Linked DNA regions of Homo sapiens. The protein of the gene in region 1 interacts with the protein of each later gene in a pairwise test. Each region holds a gene or a part of one and is shown in the gene's direction. Other genes may lie near its edges. The genes, in order: TXNDC5, EFEMP1, FLACC1, LHX4 and MGAT5B.

Region 1 (3,520 bases):
CAAAAGACAATTTGTCACTTTGTACATTCTACTGCAATTTTTGTATTTCCATGTTTGCTTCTGTATTTTTTCTTGAACAGTTATACAAACATGTTTCATCTCATTAATGATTTTATATATTTATGTGGTCTTTATGTTGATCATGTCTTATATTATTTTATCATGTGGATTTGCCATAATTCAACTCTAATTCTGTCAGTGGATATTTAGGTTATTTATACCTTTTCCATCATCAGTAATGATGTAGGGAACAAGTTTATCTTTGTAAAGGACTTTCCACCCCCCCTTCTTTTGAGTGATATTTTTAGAATATAGTATTCCCAGACATAAAATTATAAGGCCAAGAATAAAAAAAAAGATCATTTTTATGGCTCTTGATGAATATAGCCAGGTTTCTTAAGCACCATATCAGCTTATGCTGCCACTGTAGGGCAAGACGTGACCTGTTTCTGGGATGCACTGTGGTGTTCCCATGCCGGGGGACTGCTCTGGAGTCTGCCAGGAACCCAGGAAGCAACTAGAGGCCCCGCATGTGCCATAAATGAACACTTCATACTGAAAGGCCCTTGAACATCTCATGGAGAGTGGCACACGGTATTTTATTTCACCTTATGTGCACCCATTGACTGTTCACTTAGCCATTCTTCCCTTGGGCATTGTTTTGTGTGGGTATTTAGCACTTTGAAAGTCTTGACGCGCTGGCAGCAGAAGGGAAACTTTGTGGTTCTTTATGATTCCAGCCCTGCACAGCTTTGAACTGTCAGCACCTTTAAAGCCTTTAACAACTTAGCTTGGATATTCTTTTTAATAGGAATATGAACCCCCAGATAAAAGCTGAGTAATATACACTTAATGTGTCTGCAGCAGAACACTGATTCCATTATCTTTCCCTCATTTCTGGTTACTTTGGTTGGAAGCCACAGCTGTACCTGGTCTGAAAAGTTGAGAAATGTAGGATTGTGACTAGACAGCTGCACACATTGCTGTCTGCTTGGGTCCTGGCAGAAGCATCTTTTGAAAAGCCCCTTTCCCCCTCTTTCTGTATGAGACTTAGTCATATGAATTACATTCTTTCTTGAAGGTGCAGCTTATGTTCATGCCATGGTTTTCTCTCTGTTGCCTTTCATTCACCTGCATTTTCCTTCTCATCACCTCCTTTTCTCTCTGATCAGTCTTCCACAGTTGTGTCTTCCTCACAGTTTTCCCTGTCATTTGTGTAAAGTAAGGATAACCAGGCCTTCCTGGTCCCTGAGTTTCTCATTCTCAGCTTTGTCCATTTTGCTACCCTCGTGTCTGTTTGTGTGTTTTTTGAGGAAGAGTCTCACTCTGTTGCCCAGGCAGGAGTGCAGTGGCATGTTCTCAGCTCACTGCAGCCTCCACCCCCTGGGATCAAGTGATCCTCCCACCTCAGCCTCCCAAGTAGCTGGGACCACAGGCGCACGTCACCATGCTCAGGTAAATAAAATTTTTTTTTTGTAGCGATGGGGTCTCACTCTGTTGCCTAGGCTGGTCTTGAACTGCTGGGCTCAAGCAGTCCTCTTGCCTCAGCCTCCCAAAATGCTAGGCTGTCACCTAGGCTGGTCTTGAACTGCTGGGCTCAAGCAGTCCTCTTGCCTCAGCCTCCCAAAATGCTAGGGTTACAGGCACGAGCCACTGCGCTGGGCACTCTGGTGTCTGCAAGTGCTGACCCCTTCAGAATACGTCCATTGGGCGTTGTATTTTGTATTCTTTGTGAAGTATCCAAGTACGTTTCAAAGAAGAGGACAGGGTATAGGGTAAGACTGTCCTTTGCATTGTCTGCTTTGTTTGGTTGGGTTTTGGGGTAGGGACAGCTATCACTTGGCTGCCCTGGAGACTCAGACCTAGAGCTTTCACTGAGGGTGAGGCTGACGAGGGGGCTTTTTGCTGAAGCTTCCAGAGGGCTTGACGAGATCAGTTCCTGACCTGGCCTCACTCAGCACAGCAGCATCGTACAAGGGTTCCAGGTTGTTGGGTGAGGGAGGCATCTGCAGGCGGTTCCCCACAGACACAGTCACCTCCTGGATGGTTTCCCTGTGTCTCCACTGACACACCCATGACTGTTTTATTTCCTCCTGTTAGACACCAGAGCCGGAAGTGGAACCGCCCAGTGCCCCCGAGCTCAAGCAAGGGCTGTATGAGCTCTCAGCAAGCAACTTTGAGCTGCACGTTGCACAAGGTAAGGGGGACGTCCTGATGCCAGCTTCAGAGAATCACTATTATTCCTTGGCGTGCTGGGCTTTTCCTTCCTGCTACTCAAGGGCTCTTAGATAGCAGCATCAGTGGCACTGACAAAGGGTCACTCTAGAGGAGCTGTTGGGACCGTTGTTCAGTGCACCTCCTCTAAAACATGAGTTCTCCTTTTGTCTGTGCCCTTATAGAAACGCCGAGTCTAATGCTAAGCACACGTGACCCGCACACTAGCTGGACAGTGCATCCTTGGCTAAGAGTGTTTATTGACAGACTCACCTCGCTTGATTGCTCTTTACTTTATTGCACTTTGGAGATACTGCATTTTTTTACGGATTGAGGATTTTGGCAGCCCAGCATCTGGCAGGTCTAGCGGTTTTTCCAGCAGCTTGTGCTTACTTTGTATCCCTCTGTCAGCATCTTTTTAGCAATAAAATATTTTTTAATTAAGGTACATTGTTTTTAAAGAAGTAATGCTGTAGCACATTTCATAGACTATAGTGTAAACATAACTTTGATATTCACTAGGGAACCAAAAAATTTGTGTGACTTGTTTTATTGTGATATTATCTTTATTGCAGTGGTCTGGAACCAAACCCACAGTATCTCGGAAGTATGCCTGTGTATTAATGATAATCATATGCTTAATGACCTCAGGCAGAAACAAAAGCTTCTCTCTGTCTAAACAGAATTTAGATTGGGCACAGTGGCTCATGCCTATCATCCCAGCACTTGGGGAGAACAAGGTGGGATGACTACTTGAGCCCAGGAGTTCGAGATCAGCCTAAGCAAGACCTTGTCTCTACAGAAGATTAAAAAAAAAAAAAAGGCTGGGTATGGTAAGCGCACTCCTGAAGCTGAGGTGGGAAGATCACTTGAGCCTGGAAGGTCAAGGCTGCAGTGAGCTGTGATCATGCCACTGTACTCCAGCCTGGGTGACAGAGTGAGATCCTGTCTCAGAAAACAACCAAACAAAACCCAGAATTTAATGACACCGTTATAACATGAATCAAATTAGTTACTCTTTACACTTAAAAGATCTTTCTATACCACATCCCATTTTTTGCAAATGGTCTCCTAATATCAGAATGATCCCCATAAAATTTCCAGTGTGAATACATAAGTCTCCCTTTATTCACACATAGATGTGTTTCAGAAAACTTGGCCCAACACCGAATGACTTGAAAGCAATTTTGGCTTCCTGGCCGGCTCCCATTACCAAATGCTACCATGGAGAGAAATCCCCTTAGAAGACTGGGTTGGAAACGTGAGAAATGGCTTGGATTGCCTCTGGCCTTGTGACTTGTGCCTG
Region 2 (3,178 bases), on another chromosome or scaffold:
TCTGGACAGTATAATCCACTCCCAGCATGCTTCAGCTTACTGAAACCAGATTTCTAGCCTTTACCTTTCTCCCAAGTTCCTGAAAGAGATGATAAGCTGCCCTCCATAGTTTATGCTTCCTGATTTCTCAGCTTGGAAAGCCTTCCCTGCCCCAGCCATGAAAACTCCATCTAACCACCACCCTTCAAGGCCACGTTGAGATGCCTCTTCCTTCCTTCAGCCTTCCCTAATCCCCCTGGCAAAATTACCCAACTCTGCTCCACATGCCCCAGTATACTTATCTATCTCTTACTTAATTCCATTTTACTTTCTAAGTAATCATATACACATTCCCTCAATTATAATGTCCCTGATGACAAGAACTGGTGTTTAACTTTTATATAGGCAGAGTCAGTGGTTAACATTGGGGTTTGAATTCAACAGATGAACAATAGGTGCTTGATAAAATATCATGAAATGACACATATTAATCTGCCTAGAATGTCTCAGCTCTGTCTGTCCTGAATTCAATACAATGAACACCCAGTCTTGTGTCTAAAAGCAGGTTGAACACAGTCCAGATGCTCTCACACCTCCTTCCTTGCAAACAGAATCTGCCAGTTATATGATTTAATTAGATCAGTTCATTAGTTTAGTTAGTAAACTCTTTGACCCTACATCTCTACAGATATAAATGAGTGTGAGACCACAAATGAATGCCGGGAGGATGAAATGTGTTGGAATTATCATGGCGGCTTCCGTTGTTATCCACGAAATCCTTGTCAAGATCCCTACATTCTAACACCAGAGAAGTAAGAAAAATCAGAACTTTTGAAAGTGAGGATTTTCTGGTCTTACCAAGCCAAACTGCTGAATACTTTTGTTTGTCTCTGCAGCCGATGTGTTTGCCCAGTCTCAAATGCCATGTGCCGAGAACTGCCCCAGTCAATAGTCTACAAATACATGAGCATCCGATCTGATAGGTCTGTGCCATCAGACATCTTCCAGATACAGGCCACAACTATTTATGCCAACACCATCAATACTTTTCGGATTAAATCTGGAAATGAAAATGGAGAGTTCTACCTACGAGTAAGTATCCTGAAGGCAGCCTTAACTATTGAGAAAGATGGGAGTTTGTTGTTGTTGTTGTTGTTGTTGTTGTTGTGTGGTATCCACATGTGGAAGGAAAGCAAACATTTAAAGTGTCTTATGTGTAGGCATTGTGTAAGGCCTTCCAGCTACATTATTTCATTTATTCCTCTTGGTAACACTGCCAGATAGATATTAATATTCATCTCCATTTTTTACAGAGGAGAAAAGTGAGATGCAGAAAGATTAAGTAGCATCCCTGAAATCACTCAAATATTAAGTTTGGCAGACTCTGATAGAGTTGTGTGTGACCACGAAAATACAAGCCTCCCATCCCCCCGCCTCTGCCCCCACCCAACATACCCCCCAAGTAGGTATCACTAATCATTGATGGTTAATTAATTATACATAGACATACATATAATTCAAACCCAAAATAATTCCTGGAGCTCCTAAAGAGTTTTTCAGACATCATGAATTCATCATTGTTACATTCACAAGACAGTTTGTGTTCACACCGAAACTAAAACCTATAAGTATGTGAGAAGTGACCCCACCTCCCCGCACAGTATGTGTCAGTAGTTGTACCATTCTTGCCAACTTCTGGGCTGGCAGTATGGAGTCATCTCCCTATCTTTCATTGCCTGTGTGAAATCTACTTTCTGAATTCTGCCATTTCCCTCTTCACACTGTCTCCTGGGTTATCTTTGCTTCCTCACATCCCTATCTCTCTTCCTATAAACTGGCTCCCGTCACTTCCATGATCCCTTCAGTGGCTTCTGAGCTGGTCTCCCTGACCCCAAAGCCTCAGCCTTCCAGTCTCCCTACAAAATCTCAGCAAGTTCATTTTAGGTTAAAATTTGGACATATTTTAAATACGGCTCACCACTTCATGTGAAAATGATGGCACCCTACCAAGCAGTTTGCAGAGTTACGGTAACTGTTTCATGCTAATGATGTTATTCATCCAGTTACAATTTTCTCAAAACTCCTTTGGGCACTCTTTATTTTTAATCAAATTTTAAAGCCAATATTTCATTTTGAGAATATGAATTAAATTGGGAAATTCATCCTTGTGGTACAGTTTACAGATTTTTAATGTTTACCCATTTATCCTGTTTTTTGATATATTAATTTCCCATATAGCTCCAGAGTTATGTGATATTATTTCTTTGCCAGTATATTAGAAAATGATTAATTTCTCATGACCAACTTCTGAAAAGAAAGACCCAATGCAAAATGCAATCTATTACAATTATTTTTTTGAATAAAAAAGAATATATTATAGTTCTTTAACATTTGATATTTTAAATTTGACATATTCTTGATATTTGTAAGAAATTTCCACTGAATGAATTTTACACAATTCAGATACTACCAATTAACTAATTCTAGCCTAAACAAATAACATTATTTTTAAATAACAAAATCTTTAAAAATAATTTTCTATTTTGAACTTTTAGCCATAATGTAAGAAAATAAAATTTTCTAGCAGAATAATCAAAGAGTGAAACAAAGTTCCAACATGTTTTTTCTTTGCAATTAAACATGGCACTTTTACAGTTATTTATTATTCATATCAGTGCACTTACCGACTTCATATTTTCAAATCAAAATACAGTGTTTTTCTCCAGTGAAATCCTTATTCTCATGACTGATAGAAAACATTGCCAATTTTGATATTTCCAGAGTTAATGTTAAATTATTTGAAAGAAAATTATTTAAAATAATAAAAATAGACATTTCAAGACTATTTCTTATCACATAATTCAAAAAGTACTTGGATCAAATCCTACAGAGTTTCTCCACTAAAATTCTACTTGTGCAGAGGGCATTGAAACGCATGAAAATCAACAGCAGGTTAGTTAGGTTAATTAATTCGGTTAATTAAGCACCTACTACATGCTCAGCTCTATGCTAGGTGTCATGAGGAATTAAAAGGACATGTAATGCACATTTTCTGATTTCAAGGAGCTTTAAATATTATTGTGTAGAAAAAGTTAACATCTATGAAAATAGAAGTGGGGCAATTTTGTGCTTAATTCCATGGTCCAGATACATCAAAAAATCAATGTGGGCTGTCAAAGAAGGTTTCTTGATAGTCATG
Region 3 (3,520 bases), on another chromosome or scaffold:
ATTTTTAGGGATTTTATTCTTTTTGTGTCTATAGTGAATGGGATTACGTTATTGATTTGGCTCTCACCTTGGACATTATTGGTGTATAGAAATGCTACTTATTTTTTGTACATTGATTTTGTATCCTGAAACTTTACTGAACTTGTTTATCAGTTCCAGGAGCCTTTTGGCAGATTCTTTAAAGTTTTCTAGGTATGCAATTATGTTATCAGTGAACAGAAAAATTTGACTTCTTCTTTTCCTATTTGGATGCCTTTTATTTCTTTCTCTTGCCTAATGGCTCTGGCTAGTACTTCCAGTGCTATGTTGAATAAGAGAGGTGAGAGTGGGCATCCTTGTCTTGTGCTAGTTCTCAAGGGTAATGCTTCCAGCTTTTGCCCATTCAGTAGGATTTTGGCTGTGGGTTTGTCATAGATGGCTCTTATTATTTTGAAGTAAGTTCCTTTGATAACCTAATTTGCTGAGAGTTTTTATCATGAAGGGATGTTGGATTTTATCAAAGGCTTTTTCCATGTCTATTGAGATGATCATATGGGTTTTCTTTCTAATTCTGTTTATGTGGTGAATCACATTTATGGATTCACGTATGTTGAACCAACCTTGCATTGTGAGAATGAAGCCTACTTGATCATGGTGAATTAACTTTTTTTTTTTTTTTTTTGAGTCAGTGTCTCATTCTGTCACCTGGGCTGGAGTGCAGCAGCACAATCACAGCTCATTGAAGCCTCAACCTCCTGGGCTGGAGTGATCCTCACACCTCAGCCTCCTAAATAGCTGGGACCACTACACCTAGCTAATTTTTTATTTTTTCTGTAGATGTGGGGTCTCATATCATGTTGCTTAAACTCCTGGGCTCAAGCAATTCTCCTGACTCAACCTCCCATAGTGCTGGGATAACAGGTATGAGCCACCGTGCCTGGCCATGAATTAACTTTTTCATGTGTAGCTGGATTCAATTTGCAAGTATTTTGTTGAGCATTTTTTTCAGTCTATGTTCATAGGGATATTGGCCTGTAGTTTCTTTTTTGTCTTTGCCAGGTTTTGGTATAAGGATAATGCCAGCTTCATAGAATAAGTTAGGGAGGAGTCCCTCCTCCTCATTTTTTTGGAATAGTTTCAGTAGAATTGGTACCAGTTCTTCTCTGTACTTTTGGTAGAATTTGGCTGTGAATCTTTCTGGTCCCAGGATTTTTTTTTTTTTTTAGTGTTAGATTATTTTATTACTGAATCAATTTCAAAACTCAATATTGTCTATTTGGGGTTTCAATTGCTTCTTGATTCAATCTTTGGAGGTTGTGTTTCCAGGAATTTATCCATTTCCTCTAGATTTTCTTGTTTGTATGCATACAGATGTTCATAATGATCTCTGAGGTTCTTTTATATTTCTGTGGGATTAGTTGTAATGTCACCTTTGTCCTTTCTAAATGTGCTTATTTGGATCGTCGTTTTTTTCTTTGCTAATGTAGCTAGCACTCTATCGGTCTTGCATTTCCTTTCAAAGATCCAACTTTTTGTTTCATTGATTCTTTGTATGGGTTTTTGAATTTTGATTCCATTCAGTTCTGTTCTGATTTTAGTTATTTCTTTTCTTCTCCTAGCTTTGGGGTTAGTTCTTGTTTTGGAATGAACATTTTTAAGGCCTTTAATATATATGGCCAAATTGCCATCCAAAAAGAATGTATCACTCTGCACTGCCACAAGCAAAGCATGGAGTGCTCCCGTCATCTCAGAATAAAACCCATCCATTTAATCAGCTCATTTGATGAAGGCCCAGGAAAACAAAGTTAGGGCATGATTCTTACTAGGTAGATGAAGAGAGTTAAGAGATGGCTAGTGGGGCGGGAAAGGACTGAAGCCTCAAGCCTTCATCCTGTTTAATTGTGAAGTATAGTGACCAACTAGTTCTAGTTGGCCTGAGACTTTCCAGGTTTTAGCACTGAGAGTCCAGAGTCCCAGGAAACCCCTAAGTGTCAGGCAGACAAGGACACTTGGTCGCTCTATCAAAAGTTAAACACCAGTACCACCTCTAAAGTTCTATTTACCACTTACAATTTCAGTTTTGAGCCTGTGTCTAAAACTCATTTTTTTAAGATACTCCTTGGTATATTCAGGGAAAACATCATAGAACAGAGCCTAAGACGTGTGAGTGGTAAATAGAATAGGTCGGGTGTGAATCCTTCTGCTAACCTGAAAAATAAGGCAGTCAGCGTCCTTGGACCCTACTAGTGTCATCCAGGTCCAGGGCCTTCCCCCTCCTAGGATTCCATGTTCATGAAATCTGAGCCAAGCAACAGTATTGGTATTAGATTAGGCTTATTTAACCTCAACCACAAAAGAAAGTTAGATTTGCTGAGAAAAAGTGGACATTCTCTGAAAAACATCCCCTTATTTTCTAAGTGTTCAAATTAACTACTAGGTATTTCCTTTCTTCTTCTTTTTTTTTTTTTTTTTTTTTTGAGACAGAGTCTCACTCTGTCACCAGGCTGGAGTGCAGTGGCGTGATCTCGGCTCACTGCAACCTCTGCCTTCTAGGTTCAAGCGAGTCTCCTGCCTCAGCCTCCCAAGTAGCTGGGACTACAGGTGTGTGCCACCACGCCCAGCTAATTTTTGTATTTTTAGTAGAGATGGGGTTTCACCATGTTGGCCAGGATGGTCTTGACCTCTTGACCTTGTGATCTGCCTGCCTCCACCTCCCAAAGTGCTGGGATTACAGGTGTGAGCCACTGCGCCCGGCCTCCTTTCTTCTTGTGCTATTGAAGAGGGATTTGTGATTTAGGGGGAGCTAACATATGATCCTTCAACATGGAGAACTCTACCTTTCTTCAAAGGAAGCTCAGTTCTAGTGGGGCAAACACTGTGCATAGTTTGCCCTTGACCTTTGGGTTCCATAAGCTCTCTGTTGGGCTGGGCTGGAATTTACTTCTCACCAGTCACCCATGGAGGACCCACTCAGTGAGGGCCCCAGGTAAGGGAAGATGCACAGAACATGGTGATGGGCCCTGGCCACTGTGCAATGCCAAGAGGAGTCCTCCCTGAGTTGAGTTTTACAGCCTCTCCAGGTCACCTTCATTTTAGGACTCTTTTCTTCATGGTGCCTTTGTACCTCCCCAGGACAGTATTTATGATGAAATGGAAGAGAAGTGGTCAAAACAGAAGGCGAAATGGAAGAAGGATGAGAAGTTCGAGCGAGAAAATATCCTGCTACAGCAAAGTGAGTACAGAAACTCTAGCTTTTTTGATGACAAGTGCATTAAAAAACTGCCATGAAGTTTGGTCTTGACTTGAGGAAGGTGGCCTTGGGCTTACCAAGGGTGATGGGCCACATGCTAGATACCTGAATGGAAGGTGCCCAGAGTTTTCATGAAAGCAAAATGACAACAAGGGTAGGGTCTTTTTTGAAGTTCAGGCATCTGATCTAAGAGAGTCTAAGCCTGTACCTTCTGAAACTCATTTGGTCCAAGTTTGCCCATGATGGCTGGAACAAATGTTAGAATCCCTGTAGGGAGTGCAGACTTATTAT
Region 4 (3,520 bases), on another chromosome or scaffold:
GGAGCTTTGGGACGCATAGGGACTTGGAACCAGTTTAGCTGAAGAGAGGACAAAAGGAGTAATATTACCCACTTTGAGAAACCCACGGTTGGAGACAGACTGAAGCAGCAGTTTGCTGTGGCAGCACCAAATACATGGCTGCATAGACGGCTGAATTTGGAGAGGGCTGGCTGGGGTGCCGTTGAGGCGATTTTACTTTTGTAACAATGTTTTGCCTTTCTCCCTTCCTGGAATGAGTGTTAACAATGCCCATAACAGAGATGTGGGCAAATAGGGTCCACTGCTTTTAGTAAAATTCCATCGCGGTCTGGTGGCTTGAATTTCTCTTTCTTCCTCCCTCCTTCTCCTTCCCCTGTTCCCCCAATTTCTTCTGTCTATCCCTTCCTTCCTTTGCAAAATCTTTGCAGGGAGAAACATGGGATAGTGCAGGAATTCACGACACAGGGGTTTTACTCGGCGGGGGGGGCGGGGAGGAGGGCGGTCGTGTGTCCAGCAGGCTGCACCGTGGTGGAGCCATCTCTCTTTCTAGGCGCCCTGGGAGGGAAGCACAGGTGCTGGGTATAGGACAGAAGCCGCCCTGGAGCTGGGCTCTTATTGTCTGTGGTAGGAAGAAATCAACTAAAATTAGATGCCACTGTGAGGTTTTACCTTATTTAGTCCTCAATTTTATAGGATCCCTGATCAAAATGGAGCACAAGTCAACCATTTTGAGGCATTGCTTTTGGGGGTAGGTGGACAGGTTGGGTTTAATTGGTGAAAATGAAATGGATTCTCCCTTGGAAAATGGACTTTGGGGTTAACTGTATGAGCGGCTGACTGGAAAGTCGTCTTGGGAGGTGAGTCCTACCTCCTGCTGTAATTTTGGTGGATTTCTTTTCTCAGATCTCCCCACCCTGTTCCCTCTGTCAGTCTGGGTCTAGCCACAGATGTTTAACTGCAGTACCTCACCCCCACATGTCTTTAAAGTATAATTTGCTTTAATTATGATGTTAGGGGGTTAAGAGATTGGTTCTGGGAATAGCTTAATAGAGACAAAACTTGCAGCCAAATTAATTGAAAGTTTCTTGCTATGAGGGAAAGATTGCCAAACATATGGAATACTGTTACAGAGTGAGACATTAGAAAAATACATTGTAGAGATTTAGCAATGATTAAATGTGAAAATGGAGTGGAAATAGACGTGTCTACAACATTTCCATACACAAACATGGATTTGCTTAATGTAATTTTCTGTTTTATTTGCAATTACTGAGATATATGATATCCTACTGAAGAATACTAATTACGTGACAATATATCACCTAGGAGATAATCCCTGCAAATACATATTTACATTGTGTATTTCATTTGTTACTCGACTCCTTATGTTAAAATATCCAAATTACAGCCTTAAAATGATAACATCGAAATTATCTCCAGTTTACTTTTGAATTTGTTCTTTTATTGAAGAGGTTTCTATTTTTGACTAAGCCGAAAAAGAACAAAGGAGATTTTCAAAGGCACCCCAAGCCACCAAATAAAGCAAACAGTAAAAGTGGGAAGGATTCCGGAAAGCAAGTGAAGGGAAAGGACAGCTTCAGGTGTGATCATTTCTGATGTAAGAAGGATTTTCTGACTTTTTTTCTGGTTGCTAGTCATTTGTCAAGACAAACTAGAAAAAACTAGAAATTAGATAAAAAGACGTGAGTACACTGATGCATTTTAAAACATGTCAGTGCATATGATGATAGAGAATATGATTTACCTTCAATGCGATGCTAATTTTTAAAATTAGAATTTTTCTAATATTTTTGTGGCTGGCCCAGCTCTCTTTCTTTAATGCTGCTGTCATCATTGATGTTCAATGTGCCTTTTCTCTTTATGTTTTAAAGAATTAATGTTGGAATTTTGTGCTTTAGCTGTGTTATGTGATTATTACTAGGTTGTGAAAATCCCTTAAGAGGAATTTTATAAAAACATTTTGGAAAATTCTGTTATTGTCTCTTCAAGATACGCTGATTTAGAATAAGTGAAAATATAAAAACGAGAACTATAAACGGTTCAACAAAAATGAATGTTCTTTAATGACAAAGAGCCAGGGTTGGGGGGCGGCACACACCAGATTTGTCATGGAAAACTGAGTCGTGGGCCTCAGGTTTTCCCTGCGTGGGGACTGCATGGATGAATCAGGCCTTCTTCCTTTGGTCACAATTACCAGGTGATTTAAAAGGGGAATTGTGACCAGAAAACAGGATTTTATCATCAGCGGTGATGGTGGCTACTTTGAAATGGAAAGTTTTATTTTTGAAATATTTATCCAGTAATAGACCTCTTAGTTAATTTAATTTTAATGTAACTATACCTCCGTTATAAATCTTTGACCTGGACATTTCAGAACTCAGGTATGTGTTTAGGCAGGTGTGCCACAGCTTGGTATATCCTGTAGCTTCACCTTGTTGATGCATTTTAGAATTAGTTATTCCCCGACTAAATCAATGAGCCCCCCACTGACAGTATTTCCCAAGCCTGCCTTTAGAAAACCATCTTCCTTCTTTCTTACTCAGGGAACCTGAGGCAACAGAACAGCAATGTCTGCAATTTGTTGTTTTCTCTTCCTTACATGTGGGAAAGGAATGGAAAATTTCAAGAAAAACATTTGCATACTATTTCAGTTGCATATGTGATTCCTTAAAGCCCCATTTGGCGTCTCCTTTCAGTTAGTAGTCAGTAAAGAAACTTAACAAATAAATAAAATTAAACGTTTTTGGAAATACATATTGGCCAAATGTTATTTGAGACAGAGCTCAAAAAACTGCTTACTTCTGGAGGGAAATCACCAGCAAAAAGGTTTTGGGCAAAAATCCCAGATGGAGGTGGCTTTGATTGAGCACAGGTGGAAGCCATCAGACCCAGAGTAAAAGAAGGTTTAGTCCTAATTCGGCCTCAAACTGTGTACCCGTAGGGAAGCCCCTTATTCTCAGAACCTTTTAAACGTAGACAATGAATGTCCGCTTCACAGGGTGTCTGGGAGGAGGGAATGAGCTTGCCAATTTGAAAGTACTTGACCAAGTTTGGAGTGCTGGTGGTCTTAAGGCACTCAGAGACTGGGATCACAGCTCCCATTTCACAGACACAGCCGCCCCTGGGAGCACTGCTGGCTGTCCCAAGAGGATGGCCACCTGAGGGGGAATACTGTGGGGTCTGCAAACAGGGAGACCCGGAAGTGGCTCCCATGGACCCAGCTCCTTTTCTCGAAAGGAGCAAGAAAAACCTTGTCCTGAGCATTAGGCTGTCAAGTCAAAGCATGAAACAAAAAGAACACTTCATCCAGAAGGCAGTTAAAAAGCAAAGGGAGTTAAAAAGCAAAAGCCTCACAGGAGGCACATCAAGCTGGCACATCAAAGTACAAACTTTACAAAATATTAATCTGGTCTCAGAGCATCGTTAAATAAACATTATTCCCTTTTAAAATTATTATAATAGAGGTAGGGGCTCACTATGTTGCCCAGACTGGTCTCGAACTTCTGGGTTCAAGTAATCC
Region 5 (3,520 bases), on another chromosome or scaffold:
TACAATTGGACTAGAGGTGTGTGTGCATTCGTGTGTACATGTGCATGTGTGTGCATGTGTGTGTGCGTGTACGTGGTCTTAAACTTTTTAATGGGGTATCATATACACAAATGAACAATCCATGCAACTAACAACCCAGAGCAAGGACCAGAACGTGATCAGTCCCCAAGTGTCCCCATGCCACTTCACAGTCATTACTCACCCAAGGATAGTCACGACTTGACTTCTGATCACATAGAAGAGTTCTGCCTGTTTTTTGGACTTTGTGAGCATGGAATCGTTTCAGGAGTTGATATGGTTTGGCTGTATCCCCACCCAAATCTCATCTTGAATCGTAGTTCCCATAATCTCCACCTCTTGTGGGATAGACCCTGTGGGAGGTAATTGATTCATGGGGGTGGTTTACCTTGGTGCTGTTCTTGTGATGGTCAGTGAGTTCCCACAAGATCTGATGGTTTTATAAGGGGCTTTTTCCCTTTTGCTCGGTACTTCCCCTTCCTGCTGCCATGTGAAGAAGGACATGTTTGCTTCCCCTTCCACCATGATTGTAAGTTTCCTGAGGCCTCCCCAGCCATGCTGGACTCTGAGTCAATTCAACCTTTTTCATCTATAAATTACCCAGTCTCAGGTATGTCTTTAGTAGCAACGTTGAGAATGAACTAATAGAGGAGTAGTCTTTTGTGTGTGTCTTTTCTCTCAGTAGTACATGTGTGAGACTCACTATCTTGTATGCGGTTGTAGTCACTTGCACTTTTTTTTTTTTTTTTTTTTTTTTTGCTGTGTAGCCTTCCATTGTGTGAGTACACCACCATATTTTTATCCATCCGACCATTGGTGGGCATTTGGTCGTTTCCAGTTTTGGGCTTTTGCGAACAGTGCTGCTATGAATATTTCAGTGCACGTCTTTTGGTAAACATACGTAGGCATTTCTGTTGGGTATACCTAGGAGTGGAGATTCTACGTGTTGTAACATTAGTTCTCAGACCAAGTTTATCCAAGCCAGTCTTTTCACATTTCCCAGGCCTCAGAAGCTGAGTGCCTGGAATACAGAACTGAAGTCCGGGAGAAGGAGGAGACAGACAAGAAAAGGGCCGCTGAGAACCCAGGAGAGCTGACCCTGATTCACTTTAGATCCCGACTCGCATTGTCCTCCATGATTTCTTTCATACCCTTGGATCAAGCTAATCTGCTTGGGCAGACCCAAGGCAGGGACTCAGGCCGGGAAAGCAGTGTGCAATGTGGGTTTAACATCCTGATCCTGCAAGAGAAGCCCCTCAAACTACATCCCCACGCAGTGCCTGGGGCAGCCCTGCAGAAAACCTAGGAGGTACCAGCATTTCCACTTAGGAGATGCCTGAGGGAAGGATTAGGGCTTCACGGGGAGGTGCTTGGCAAATTGCTTGGCTGAATCAGGCCTGGGGAGGGATCTTGGAAGTCCTGGGCCAAGGTTGGATTGTTGGATAATGCACGTTTTGTTACCCAAAAGAAATCTGCGGAGTCTAGACAACCCCAGAGCAGAATCAGGAGAAGGAAACCCTCTAAGGCCCTGCTATTTAGAAAAAAAAAAAAAAAATTGCATTGGTCAACAAAACAATCTGTGTACAAATGGGAAAAACAATCTCTCCTCCCCTGTCAAACCGGTGACAGAAGTGGGGTCCCACATGGACTGTGGCTGCGAAGGGAGAGGGAGGAGAAGGCTTTTCTCGAAAAGAAGAGGAGGGCGTCATTCAGCCTCTTGTGGACTGTGGTCTATGTGTGGGGCCTCCAAATTCTCCTCTGTGCCTGTTTATACTTCATGATAAACTGCGTACTTTGGGGATGAAATGTGACTGACATCTCATTCTGTATTCTGCACACTCATCTTAAAGATTCAAGAGAGGAGGCTGCATGGGGAATCATGACCCGGAGGAGATCTGACTTCTTTCCCTCTTGCTGCATTTGGGCTGGGCCTGGGCTCTGGGGAGGGCTTTCCGGCATTGCCCCCTCCCAGGCAGCTCTGCCCCACTTCCCACCCCAGGTCCTCCTCCTGTTTCCTGCCCTTCCAGCCCTTCTCGCCTAGGCCTCCTTCCCCATGTGGCTGCAGATAGTGCTGTGAGGCTGTTTCCTGCCCTCTGACTTGTCTTGAAGAAGCAGTGGTAGGAGGCTGGGTGTGGTGGCTCACGCCTGTAATCCCAACACTTTGGGAGGCTGAGGCAGGTGGATCACCTGAGGTCAGGAGTTCGAGACCAGCCTGGCCAGCGTGGTGAAACCCCATCTCTACTAAAAATACAAAAATTAGCAGGGTGTGGTGGCACGTGCTGTCATCTCAGCTCCTCGGGAGGCTGAGGCAGGAGAATTGCTTGAACCAGGGAGGAGGAGGTTGCAGTGAACTGAGATTGCGCCACTGCACTCCAGCCTGGGTGACAGAGCAAGACTCTGTCTCGGCTTAAAAAAAAAAAAAAAAAAAAAAGTAGTGGTAGGAGGCTATCTTTTGGGAGGGGTCTGTAGGCTGAAGGTCCATGGCACAGCTGCATGTGTCTACTGGGCCCTGCCAGACCTCCCAGGCCTCCACCAGGGATTGAACCTGGGGAAGGCTACCTGGCTCTGTGGATGGCTCTGGCTCTGGCTCTGGCCCTTGGTACTAAGGGGCCCTGGGGCTCTTCTCTCAGGCTTGATGGATGGGGGACCGGGGCCCGGAGGTCTGAGGAAGAGCCTGGTGTGGCCTCCCACGGCCTGTCCTTGTCTTCTCTGCTGCCCGGAGCCCAGAGCTCCCGTGGCCTCAGCTGGTTTCTGCGGTGAGCGAGTACAGAGAGATAAATGTGCGCATTTCTCCAGCTGCACGAACACCCAGTCACAGTTCCCTTCTCAGTGCCAGGGAGGTCTCTGCTTTCTGGAGAGATGGGGGCTCATTCAATTTCCAATGGTAAAGGGTGGGGATGGGGACAAGAAAAGGGGGACGAAGGAGGATGAGAGAGACAGAGAGAGACGAAGAGCGTCTGGGGAGGAGACGGGGCCTCGGTGGGTAATAAACACATCCCGTCTGTAAATGAGAGGATCTATTTGTATCTCCCAGCGTCCCAGCTTTCCTTATTTATATGGAAATATGGAGGGAACGTGTGCCTGTTCTGAGTTGTATCACTGGGGCCTCACATTAGATATATTTCAATTTAGCTGATGCCAAGAGTGGTGAAGTGACTCTGGGGAAGCGATGTCAGCTTGCTCTGCTGACAGTCCCGGGGCCAGTGGTGGCTTTTAGGGGAGTGGGTCACTGGGGGAGAGTCGGCCTGACCTGCTTCCCTCCTGGGTACCCACCCCCTGCCTAGTCTTTGGGCATTTCCAGAGCACAAAATGTGCCTGGTACCCCGAGGGCTCATTGGGAAGGGGTAGGGGCTGTCTCCCCAGGTCTCAGGGGTTTCTGGAGTTCCATGCCATCTGCAGAAGATGGGAGCAGCTCCTGAGCCCCTGGCACGGGGGGACTTGGTCCAGTCTGATGGGGTGGGGCTTGAAGAACTACAGAAGGGGCATCTGGTTCCGCAGGCAT

What was found.
Region 2: the proteins of TXNDC5 (region 1) and EFEMP1 interact in a two-hybrid assay, tested with the Homo sapiens proteins (one large-scale study listed by BioGRID).
Region 3: the proteins of TXNDC5 (region 1) and FLACC1 interact in a two-hybrid assay, tested with the Homo sapiens proteins (one large-scale study listed by BioGRID).
Region 4: the proteins of TXNDC5 (region 1) and LHX4 interact in a two-hybrid assay, tested with the Homo sapiens proteins (one large-scale study listed by BioGRID).
Region 5: the proteins of TXNDC5 (region 1) and MGAT5B interact in a two-hybrid assay, tested with the Homo sapiens proteins (one large-scale study listed by BioGRID).

The regions. Positions count from the first base shown.
Region 1 is NC_000006.12:7,893,783-7,897,302, reverse strand, and holds part of TXNDC5 (thioredoxin domain-containing protein 5 isoform 1 precursor), read left to right. Parts: intron 1-2,100; coding exon 2,101-2,197; intron 2,198-3,520. UniProt on the Homo sapiens protein: Protein disulfide isomerase of the endoplasmic reticulum lumen involved in the formation of disulfide bonds in proteins. Can reduce insulin disulfide bonds.
Region 2 is NC_000002.12:55,868,613-55,871,790, reverse strand, and holds part of EFEMP1 (EGF-containing fibulin-like extracellular matrix protein 1 precursor), read left to right. Parts: intron 1-667; coding exon 668-791; intron 792-875; coding exon 876-1,071; intron 1,072-3,178. UniProt on the Homo sapiens protein: Binds EGFR, the EGF receptor, inducing EGFR autophosphorylation and the activation of downstream signaling pathways. May play a role in cell adhesion and migration. May function as a negative regulator of chondrocyte differentiation.
Region 3 is NC_000002.12:201,308,842-201,312,361, reverse strand, and holds part of FLACC1 (flagellum-associated coiled-coil domain-containing protein 1), read left to right. Parts: intron 1-3,111; coding exon 3,112-3,211; intron 3,212-3,520.
Region 4 is NC_000001.11:180,236,757-180,240,276, forward strand, and holds part of LHX4 (LIM/homeobox protein Lhx4), read left to right. Parts: intron 1-3,520. UniProt on the Homo sapiens protein: May play a critical role in the development of respiratory control mechanisms and in the normal growth and maturation of the lung. Binds preferentially to methylated DNA.
Region 5 is NC_000017.11:76,874,903-76,878,422, forward strand, and holds part of MGAT5B (alpha-1,6-mannosylglycoprotein 6-beta-N-acetylglucosaminyltransferase B), read left to right. Parts: intron 1-3,520. UniProt on the Homo sapiens protein: Glycosyltransferase that acts on alpha-linked mannose of N-glycans and O-mannosyl glycans.